Homo sapiens: one gene and its partners. The protein of the gene in region 2 interacts with the protein of the main gene of each other region in a biochemical or structural test. Each region holds a gene or a part of one and is shown on either strand. Other genes may lie near its edges. The genes, in order: RAD52, SEM1 and RPA1.

Region 1 (3,651 bases), on a different chromosome or scaffold from region 2:
TCCCCATTGATGTCTGGTAAGCATCTAGCATGTTCCTGCACTGTGTTAGTTTCTGAGAATACTGCAGTGAGGACAAGACACAAGTCCCTGCCCTCACAGAGAAGATGAGTATGAAAAGATTACGGCGCCATTCACAAAACCCACCAGCCACCTCCTGACATGGAGAACAAACTGCAGAGAGTTTTTCTTTTTTTTCCCCCCAAAGGCTGCTCCAATTTCCCAGCAGGAGTAGGCAACACACACTTGGGGACCGGGGGCTCAAGGGCACAACCTCCCATGACCAGAGTTCTTAACTTGGGATCTACGGACTCCCCCACAGAACTCATAGGTTTTTCTGGTTCAATTCACTTCAATTCTCAAAGACACGGATATGGTTTGGATGTTTATCCCCTCCAAATTTCATGTTGAAACGTGACCTCCAATGCCGGGGGGTGCGGCCTGGTGGGAGGTACTGGATCCTGGGGCTGGATTCCTCATAAACAGCTTAGTGCCATCCCCTTGGTGTTGAGTGAGTTCTCACTCAGCTCATGAGAGATCTGGTGGTTTTGAGTGTGGGGGCTGGGCATGATGGCTCATGCCTGTGATCCCGGCACTTTGGGAGGCACAAGGCAGGAGGATGACTTGAGCCCAGGAGTTTGAGACCAGCCTAGGCAACAAAGGGAGACCCTGTCTCTCCAAAAAAAAAAAAATTTTTTTTTAATTAACTGGGGGTGGTGTTATGTGCCTGTGATCCCAGCTACTCGGGAGGCTGAGGCGGGAAGATCACTTCAGCCCAGGAGTTCAAGGCTGCACTGAGCGATGACGGCACCACTGCACCCCAGCCTGTGCAACAGAGCAAGACCCTGTCTCAAAAAATGAAAAACAACAATAAAATAAATAAATAAGCCTGGGACTCCTTCCTTCTCTCTCTTGCTCCCTCTCTCTCCACGTTCCCTCTTCACCTTCTGCCATGATTAGAAGCTTCCTGAGGCCTCAGCAGAAGTGGATGCTGGCACCAGGCTTCCAGTACAGTCCACAGAATCATAAGCCAATCAAACCTCCTTTATTTATAAATTACCCAGCCTCTGGTATTCCTGTATAGCAACATAAATGGACTAACACGGACATCTGCGTGACTGTGTAACTACGTTAACTATGCTACCTGTGCGTAGCGGAGGACTGCTGAGGAGCACGGAGAGGAGGGTGCTGTCTGTGCACTCGCAGTAGGAGTGGGAAGGCCTCCGGCACACATGACTGAGTGCACGGAGAAGAGAGAGTACAGGATTCTACCACTTACTCCCAGCAAGGGAAGCCTGAAACAGAAACATTGAAAAAATACTAACGAAAGTGGGAAAACGGCAGACAGGAACCAGGGCAGGGGTGAGAATTACCTTCCACGCTGCTTGGATTTTTGAACCATGTGGATGTGTTACCTCTTCCAAAAAAAATCGAAATCTGCTCTGAAGCAAGAGCTGAAATGACGCAGGTTAGACTCCCAGCCCCGCGCTCACCTGAGGGCTCGCTTCAGCCCGTCTGTCACCGCCTCCTTCCTTGCCTTCTCCAAAGATAAAGCCTTGGACTTGAGGCCCTCACTAACACCATAACCAACATCTTCATGATATGAACCATCCTGGGGGCAGAAAAGGAGTTTGAACTCAAACACGAGAGCGGCAGGCGTGCCACAACTCCCCTGTTCCTCAAGCAGCAGGGTTCAAAGCCGGACTCTCCCACCTGGCGGCCTTGCTACAGGGGCACGGGCAGAAGGCTGGGTGAGAATCCATCGCGAGTGCTGCTTCCTAGACCTGGGCTGCCTGGACATGTGCCTGCGGTCAAGGTGTCAAGACGATCCTCCCTTCCCAACTTCCCAACACACAAAGGGCACATTAGAAACTCACCCCAAATCCTATCAGTGTGCATCACCCTAAGGTAAAAAAAACCTCTGGGATGGCCGGGCCGGGCGTGGTGGCTCACGCTGTAATCCCAGCCCTTTGGGAGGTCAAGGGAGGTGGATCACTTGAGGTCAGGAGTTCAAGACCAGCCTGGTCAACATGGTGAAACCCTATCTCTACTAAAAATACAAAAATTAGCCGGGTGTGGTGGTGGGCACCTGTAATCCCAGCTACTCAGGAGACTGAGGCAGGAGAATCACTTGAACCTGGGAGGCAGAGGTTGCAGTGAGCCGAGATTGCACCACTGCACTCCAGCCTGGGTGATAGAGTGAGACTACGTCTTGGAAAAAAAAAAACCTCTGGGATATGAAACAAAGGGATGATTTGAACACTGGATCTAATGGTCTGTAAGGACGGGAGAGCAAACCCTTTGTAAATCAGGTGGCGTCCAGCTCCTGCCTCTCACCAAAAGAGAAGGTGGACCTGAGCACATCATTCGCTGATTGAGAATTAAATACAATGTTTGATGACAGCGCTCTGTGATTTTTAAAAAATAACTCAGAAAGCACTCAAATAAATGAGTGACACTATAACACAATTCTTTCCATTCTCAGCTACTCACTCATAGATACAAGATTTTTTAGTACTATTTAGAAAAATAAGTCAGAATAGAATTAATGCTGAATTGTTCATTCAAGAAATAAGTAGGCCGGGTGCGGTGGCTCACGCCTGTAATCCCAGCACTTTTGGAGGCCAAGGCGGGTGGATCACCTGAGGTTGTGAGTTCCAGACCAGCCTGACCAACATGGAGAAACCGCGTCTCTACTGAAAACACACACAAAAAATTAGGCGGGCGGGGTGGCGCATGCCTGTAATCCCAGCTACTTGGGAGGCTGAGGCAGGAGAATCGCTTGAACCCAGGAGGTGGAGGTTGCGGTGAGCTGAGATTGAACCATTGCCCTCCAGCCTGGGCAACAAGAGCAAAACTCCATCTCAAAAAAAAAAAAGAAGTAAGTAATATTCAGTTATGGATATATGGATATATAAACTAACTGAAAAGAAAAAACAGCACCATCCATCTCATTAAGATATACATTTTCCATAAATTTTATATTTTAAATTTTTTATTTTTGTGGCAAGATTTCATATCTTTAATTTTTCTAAGTATCAAAATTTTGCTGTATTTATGTTTTCTCTTCACCATAAACACAATTGTCTGGTCAATTGTGTGTTAACAGTAGCTATAATATAACTAAATCCAAAAGAAATATTTTAATATTTAGAGCCTTAAGTGCACTGAAAATTTACCAAAAATTTTTATTTTTATACACAGGCAAAGGCAGAGAAGCACAGTAAGGCTACCGATAAAACTTTTCTTTTTTTCCACCCAGGAGTTCAGTGGCGCAATCACAGCTCACCACAGCCTCGACTTCCTGGGCTCAGGTGATCCTCCCACCTCAGCCTCTTGAGTAGCTAGGACTACAAGCATACACCACCATGCCCAGCTAATTTTTTGTATTTTTAGTAGAGACGGGCTTTCGCTATGTTGCCCAGGCTGGTCTCAAATCCCTGGGCTCAAGCAGTCCTTCCACCTGGGCCTCCCAAAGTGCTGGGGTTACACGAATGAGCCACCCCGCCTAGCCAAACTTTCAACCATAAATATGTATTAGGATTAAAACCAGTGGGGAAATAGAATAGAAATATGAGTTCAGATAAAGAAAGAACAATGTAAAATTTCTAATGATTAAAAAAAAGCTTGTTCATTGTATTTCTTCAAATAAAT
Region 2 (3,651 bases):
TACTTTCAAACGCTTTGTTGAGTGTCAGTGCTCCAGAAAGTGGATTTTATCCACTCTCGGGTAACTTGGAGTATAGAGGTTGCCACATGAAAGTCGTTACTGGTGGTTCGACTAATAGATTTTCTTTTGGGAGTGGGTCTTTCTTTTGGGAGTGGCGTTGCTACATCCCATCTTGCATAAGAATATGTTTGGTAGGATGTTCATTTAATCATTTTAAGGAAAGGGAATTTTTATTGTTTCTTCTCTCTCTCTTTTTTTTTTTTTTTTTTTTTTTTTGTTTGTTTGAGATGGAGTTTCACTCTTGTTGCCCAGGCTGGAGTGCAGTGGCGCGATCTCGGCTGACTGCAACCTCCACCTCCTGGGTTCAAGCGATTCTCCTGCCTCAGCCTCCCGTGTAGCTGGGATTACAGGCATGTGCCACCATGCCCGGCTAATTTTGTATTTTTGGTAGAGACAGGGTTTCTCCATGTTGGTCAAGCTGGTCTTGAACTCCCGACCTCAGGTGATCCACCCGCCTCTGCCTCCCAAAGTGCTGGGATTACAGGTGTGAGGCACCATGTCAGCATAGTTTCTTCTCAATAGCCCTTCAATGTAAAGTGCAACATCTGGAAGGAGTCTCTGAAGGTACAAATGCTGCTTTTATTTTTTCCCCCATTCTATAGCCTGTGAATTGGTGCTACATTGGCATTTCCTCACAATTATTCTAATTGGTGGGTGTGTAATCTTCTGGTCATTAAGCAGGAGCTGTAAAAAATCATATTTAGGATCTTTGTGATATACAGCCTCCAACTTCTTGACTACTTAAACTGATTTAGAACAGCCTTTATTAGGAAGACATTCAAGGTCCTGGGTGTGATTGATTTTGATATGATTTTGGAAGCTTTGAAATGGTTAGAATTCTAGGACCGGAGGGCAACTTAAAAGTCTAGAGAAGATTTCATTTTTCAAATCATACGGTCAGGTTGGTGGTGATAGAGTCAAAAACTGAAGTAGTCTATAATTTATTTAAAACTTTTTTTTTTTTTTTGAGACAGAGTCTCGCTCTGTCACCCAGGCTGGAGTGCAGTGGCGCAATCTCGGCTCACTGCAAGCTCCACCTCCTGGGTTCACACCATTCTCCTGCCTCAGCCTCCCTAGTAGCTGGGATTACAGGTGCCCGTCACCACGCCCGGCTAATTTTTTTTGTAGAGATGGGGTTTCATGGTGTTAGCCAGGATGGTCTCGATCTCCTGACCTGGTGATCCGCCCGCCTCGGCCTCCCAAAGTGCTGGGATTACAGGCATGAGCCACCGCGCCCAGCCTAATTTATTTAAAACGTTGACTACTTTTCCATATCAAATTATTGAAAGAGTTTTAAAAAATATTTTTATTAGTTTCTCTGACAATTAGATGTGGATTCGAGTAAAAGAGGGAAGAGAACAAGTGCTCCTTTAGATTCTTTTATTCTCTTCCTGTGCCAGAATTGAAAGGGTTTTTTTTTTTTTTTTGAGAGAGAAGCTTTTTTAGAATATTTAGAATGAAATTGAGTTTGCCTGCAGCAGCAATAGCGTTTACAAGAGTGATATTATACTAAGTATTCTATACTTTTTCTGTATTAGGTGAAATTTCTATATAGTCTGAAGAAATCAGGAGCAGAATACTACCCACCTTCCCACCCTCTGGCCCCTGGAGAAATTTCTGGATAAGACAGTGTTATGATGGGAATCTGTCTGTTGAGGCAGACAACAGACTGGTGATCCCCTAATGCTGCCAGCATTCTGGAATAAATGAGGCATTATCACCTGTGCCTTAAAAAGTATGACATCTTACAGTGGTTCTTAACCAAGGGAGTGTTTTTGGATGTCACACTGACTTGACAGGTAGGAGTGTAGAAAAACTGCCAGCATTTAGTGGGTAGAGGTCAAGGATTTTATATTTGTGCCTGCACGAGGAAGAACTGCCCTGTGAAAAATGCTATTGAGAAATATTTATGTGAACAGCATATACCAACAGGACTAAACATTCAATAGGAGGATTCCTTAGAATCTTAAATGTAGAAGATAGATGTGACCAGTATTGATAATGTCACACACCATGCTAGTCAGTTTACCTAGTGCCAAAAAGGGCTTTTGCTGTTTTTGCATTATTAAATGTAATATAGTGGACATAACCATTAAACATTTGAATTAGTTACATGGTGGTAGCAAGAAATGGAGAACTCATGTTACTAAAAATTTTTAAGAAAAAATGTGTAATCTGTATAATGATTCGAAGAGTACCTGTTGAATGTCCATTTTTGATAATTGTGTGCAAGAAGAAAGTTTTTGAACCCCAGGATAGAATAAGCATGATGAATCTAGGATTAGGCCTAGGTTCAAATCTACCATTCATAAACTTTCAGCTAGTCACCTCATGCTAGTTACTTAACTTCCTCTTTAAAATATTTTTGTAGTATATTATATAGGATAATTGTATAAGTAACCGCTTATGGTAAAAATTTAAACTTAATGAGAGTATAAATTAAAAAGTAAAAACACAGTTTCCCTCTACAATTCCCCAAAAAAGTTATTTATGTCCCAGTGATAACCAACGTTAAATGTTTTTTTCTTTAGTATCCTTCCAGAATGTATTTATAAATTGTACTTGTTTGTATGTATCCTTTAAATACATACACAGAAGACATACGATATATACTATTTCCTCCTACTTGATTTTTATTATTTAATGTATCTCAGGTACATTTTTGCATCAATATAAAAATCTACCTCATGCCCTCATTGTGTTCATCTTAAATAGTCTATTTAACTAGTCCCTTCTTGATAGATATTAGGGTTTTTTCTTTGGTTCTTTTATGTATGTGTGTGTGTGTGTGTGTGTGTGTGTGTGTGTGTGTGTTTTTAAGAGACAAGGTCTTGCTCTGGTGCTCTGTCACCCAGGCTGGAGTACAGTGGCGCTGTCACAGATTATTACGGCCTTGAACTCCTGGGATTGAGTGATCCTCTGTCTCAGCCTCCCTATCAGCCTCCCTAGTAGCTGGGAGTACAGGCATGTGCCATCTCACCTAATTTGTTCTTTCAAATTTTTTGTGGAGATTTGGTCTCGTTATGTTGCCCAGGCTGGTACTGAACTAATGGCCTCAGCAGTCTTCCCATCAGTCTTCCCAGGTGCTGGGATTACAGGTGAGCCACTGCACCTGGCCTTTAAAAGAAAAAAAAAAAATGGAATATGCTGCAGTGAATAACCTTATAGCTTTAGGGTTTTTGTTGCTTGGGTTTTGTTGTTTTTTTTCTGTTACAGATAATGAATATGTTTACATCTTTTTGTGTGTGTGCTAATCTATAAGATAAACTCCTAGAGAAGAATTGCCAAATTGAATTGGCAGACTCATTTTTTATAATATAATTTTTATTTTGAAATAATCTCAAACTTACAGAATAGTTGAAAGTACAGTACAAACATTTTTCTCTAAACCATTTGTGAATAAGTTGCCAACCTGATGGCCATCACTCCTGAGTATTTTAATGTGTATTTCCTACAAGGACATAGTCACAAGACAACCATCAAAATCAGGAAATTAACGCACTGATGCATTACTATAGGTTGAGCATCCCAAATCTGAAATCCTCCGGAATCTCAAACTTTCTGAGTACCAACATGAAATTTCAGATTAGG
Region 3 (3,651 bases), on a different chromosome or scaffold from region 2:
CAGAAAAGCAAAAGTGAAAATCAGATCACAAGCAACTTGCAAACATGACTTACTCTGACATTTTTGGCAATGGCTCCGAATGTGAAGTGGTTTGTCACTGAGAGGGCACTGTGGAGGGAGCCGGTGAATCACCCCGTGGCAGCACCTTCCTCGTGGGCTCTGGGCGTGTCCCTCAGTATTCAACTTTTTTTGTTTTTATTGTCAGAATAAATTAAACTCGTCATTGCCGTTTTGTTCTGTTCTGTTTCTCAGTTGAGGCTAATGCAGCATGATTATGGGATCGGCTAGCTGAAATTCTCATTCTTCAGCGGGGCCAGTGACTTCAGTGTGTGACTGTAAAATGCGGGTTCCTGGGATGTCCGTAGCCCTCTCTGGACCCTGTTTGTGCAAGGGCCACTGCTCTCAAGATGTCACTTTGGTGCTAGGGTGGCCTGTGTTCTATCCCAGTGTCACTTGGGTGCTGGGGTGGCCTGTGTTCAATCCCGCAGCCCTAACCTGCCCACGTGCTTCTGCAGGGTGAAATCCGAGCTACAGCTTTCAATGAGCAAGTGGACAAGTTCTTTCCTCTTATTGAAGTGAACAAGGTATGGCCGTGCTGACTTTAGAACTGACACCGCCTGGGGGTGGAGTGCGGATGAAAAGACGCTGGCCCAGGGGAGGGGTGTGTGGTGGCAGACTAGGGGTTTCTGTCCGATTTGATGGTAGTCTCAGGTTCTGTGGCTTGGCCTCCTTCGCAGGTGTATTATTTCTCGAAAGGCACCCTGAAGATTGCTAACAAGCAGTTCACAGCTGTTAAAAATGACTACGAGATGACCTTCAATAACGAGACTTCCGTCATGCCCTGTGAGGACGACCATCATTTACCTACGGTTCAGTTTGATTTCACGGGGATTGATGACCTCGAGAACAAGTCGAAAGACTCACTTGTAGGTAAGCTCGTGTATGAGAAGGAAGAGCAGGGATGACTAGCTTTCTTTGCAGTGTACGGGGTGGTGTCAGGCTTCAGTGCTTGCCGTTCATCATTTGCTGGCGTCGGAATGGGAGTCTTGACCACCTCCTGCTAACACGTGCATGTGTTTTAGACATCATCGGGATCTGCAAGAGCTATGAAGACGCCACTAAAATCACAGTGAGGTCTAACAACAGAGAAGTTGCCAAGAGGAATATCTACTTGATGGACACATCCGGGAAGGTGGTGACTGCTACACTGTGGGGGGAAGATGTAAGTGCTGGGATGGGGTCTTCAACACGCACAGGACCTCCTGGGGTTGGGGCGTGGTCTTGTCCTATAGGATGGGGCCTTCAGCACACACAGGAGGAGCTCCTGGAGTTGGGGGAGGGAGTGGTCTTATCCTATAGGATGGGGCCTTCAGCACACACAGGAGGAGCTCCAGGAGTTGGCGGAGGGGGCATCTTGTCCTATAGGATGGGGCCTTCAGCACACACAGGAGGAGCTCCTGGAGTTGAGGGAGGGAGGGGTCTTGTCCTATAGGATGGGGCCTTCAGCACACACAGGAGGAGCTCCTGGAGCTGGCGGAGGGGGCGTCTGTTCCTATAGGATGGGGCCTTCAGCACACACAGGAGGAGCTCCTGGGGTTGGGGGAGGGAGGGGTCTTGTCCTATAGGATGGGGCCTTCAGCACACACAGGAGGAGCTCCTGGGGTTGGCGGAGGGGGCGTCTTGTCCTATAGGATGGGGCTGTTAGCACACACAGGAGGAGCTCCTCGTGGGGGCGGTTTTGTCCTATGAGTTGGGGGCTTTCACCATGTAGATGGGAAGGATTGTGCTGTCTGGTAAGTATTTAAAATCCTTTATCTTACTTCTGTGAGATTTGCTGTGATTCAAGCTTTACGCGGGGAAATGCTCTTTCCCCTAACTCTAGGAAAGCAGTGATAGTTTTGATGTGTCTCTGAGTAGATTCTCATGTGTGAGGTCTGTCTTGTATGGATTCCATGTACGCTGATTACATTCACTCTACTATTGAATGTTTGCCTTGTTTTCTATAAAAATCTTCTGTGTTCTTCCTGCTAGTGACACTTGTATATGTCTGGTGTTTCTTTTACAGGCTGATAAATTTGATGGTTCTAGACAGCCCGTGTTGGCTATCAAAGGAGCCCGAGTCTCTGATTTCGGTGGACGGAGCCTCTCCGTGCTGTCTTCAAGCACTATCATTGCGAATCCTGACATCCCAGAGGCCTATAAGCTTCGTGGATGGTAGGTTTTGTGGGGCTAAACAAAGGGTTACTTGAGGCTGGGCTTTGAGAAAAGCTGGTTACAATCAGCATGGGAGCTTTCTGCCAAGCAGAAGCCTTCGTCCCTGAGTGGTGCAGCTTCCGTGTTTCTTGAAGGCATTATGCCTTCTGTGAGGAGGGCTTTAAAGCCCTTAAACGGACAAACCTGTAATCCCAGGACAAACCTAGAGAGTCGGAGGAGGCAATTAGCATGTAAGTGCTGCCTGCTGACCTCGATCCTGCCAAAGGAGGGGACGGCCAGGCTTCAGCAGCGGTGTGCTGAAGGCGCCTTTCTTTCCAGGGTTTAGGCTCTGGGCCTCTGTGGCGTGGGGGAACACATGCTTTCTTTCTCTGTCAAGTCTTTGGTGCCGATCACATCTTCTAGTGTGTATTCACTAGACTCTGATCAAGTGTGGTGAGAACAATGGGCTTTTTGTTAGGATTAGATTGTTATTCCCAAAGCACTCAAGGGATGAGGAGAGCCTGTTAAAATCTCCTCACTGTATCTAGCTTTTTAGGACATTCAAACTCTGTCTTAAAAGAGTACTTCAAACTGAGACACAGGATGCAAGAATTGATGTGGTCAGGGAAAACACTTTCACCCAAGCTTCAATAATTCCCATAGCTGTAGTCTATGGGGGGGAAGTGTGTCAGTTTCCAGCTGTGTCTTAGGATTTAAGCAGCTAAAGAATGAGCTCATTTTACATACTCCTCCTTTGTTTTGAGTCATTTAAACCAATGGCACTGGTGTTTGACCAGTTTCATGAAGCATCTTCTGGAATGTTCATGTCACTGAGCCATCCTCATGAGTAGTACGGTCCACACGTATCTGCCGAACTGCAGGGCCCGTTCATAGTCTGACCAGAACTAGCCACAGATTTGCTTTTTTCTTATTGCTTGATTTTCTTTTAGGCTCTGGAGTTCGACTCCAGGTTAATTGCATTCCCACATTAAAATCGCATTCCCACATTAAAATTGCATTCCCACATTAATGTCTTCATCTTTTACTTGTCAATAATCATGATCCCAGTCAACATAAAAAGCACGGCTGTCCCCAGAATAAAATAACTTGGCATTGATCAAAGACAAGCTCAGTGCATACATGATACCTGGACAAGGATTAGAGATGTTTAGATCTTGGCTATAACAATGCAGAGTTTTTATTGTAAGAAGGGCCGCCTTGACTCCTGACGAGTGATCTTTGGTGGCAAATGTCTCCTTGGAGCTTTTGAAACCGTGAACTTGTGTAGCTAGTAGTGGTGAAACAGATGGATGGGCCTTGCTGTGCCCCTGTGAGGGATTTAGCCGCTTACCTGACAGGAGAAGGCAGCTGTCTGCAGCTCAGGGTAACATCCATTCTGTTAGATGGTCTCTGTTTAAGGAACCTGTTCTTTGTGTGGTTACCCACCTTGGGATGGTA

What was found.
Region 1: the proteins of SEM1 (region 2) and RAD52 form a complex in vitro, tested with the Homo sapiens proteins (one study listed by BioGRID).
Region 3: the proteins of SEM1 (region 2) and RPA1 are reported together in a solved structure, tested with the Homo sapiens proteins (one study listed by BioGRID).

Annotation. Positions count from the first base shown.
Region 1 is NC_000012.12:925,655-929,305, forward strand, and holds part of RAD52 (DNA repair protein RAD52 homolog), read right to left. Parts: intron 1,610-3,651; coding exon 1,491-1,609; intron 1,293-1,490; coding exon of another isoform or gene 1,142-1,292; intron 1-1,141. UniProt on the Homo sapiens protein: Involved in double-stranded break repair. Plays a central role in genetic recombination and DNA repair by promoting the annealing of complementary single-stranded DNA and by stimulation of the RAD51 recombinase.
Region 2 is NC_000007.14:96,703,196-96,706,846, reverse strand, and holds part of SEM1 (26S proteasome complex subunit SEM1), read left to right. Parts: intron 1-3,651. UniProt on the Homo sapiens protein: Component of the 26S proteasome, a multiprotein complex involved in the ATP-dependent degradation of ubiquitinated proteins.
Region 3 is NC_000017.11:1,878,478-1,882,128, forward strand, and holds part of RPA1 (replication protein A 70 kDa DNA-binding subunit), read left to right. Parts: intron 1-515; coding exon 516-584; intron 585-737; coding exon 738-930; intron 931-1,082; coding exon 1,083-1,222; intron 1,223-2,065; coding exon 2,066-2,214; intron 2,215-3,651. UniProt on the Homo sapiens protein: As part of the heterotrimeric replication protein A complex (RPA/RP-A), binds and stabilizes single-stranded DNA intermediates that form during DNA replication or upon DNA stress.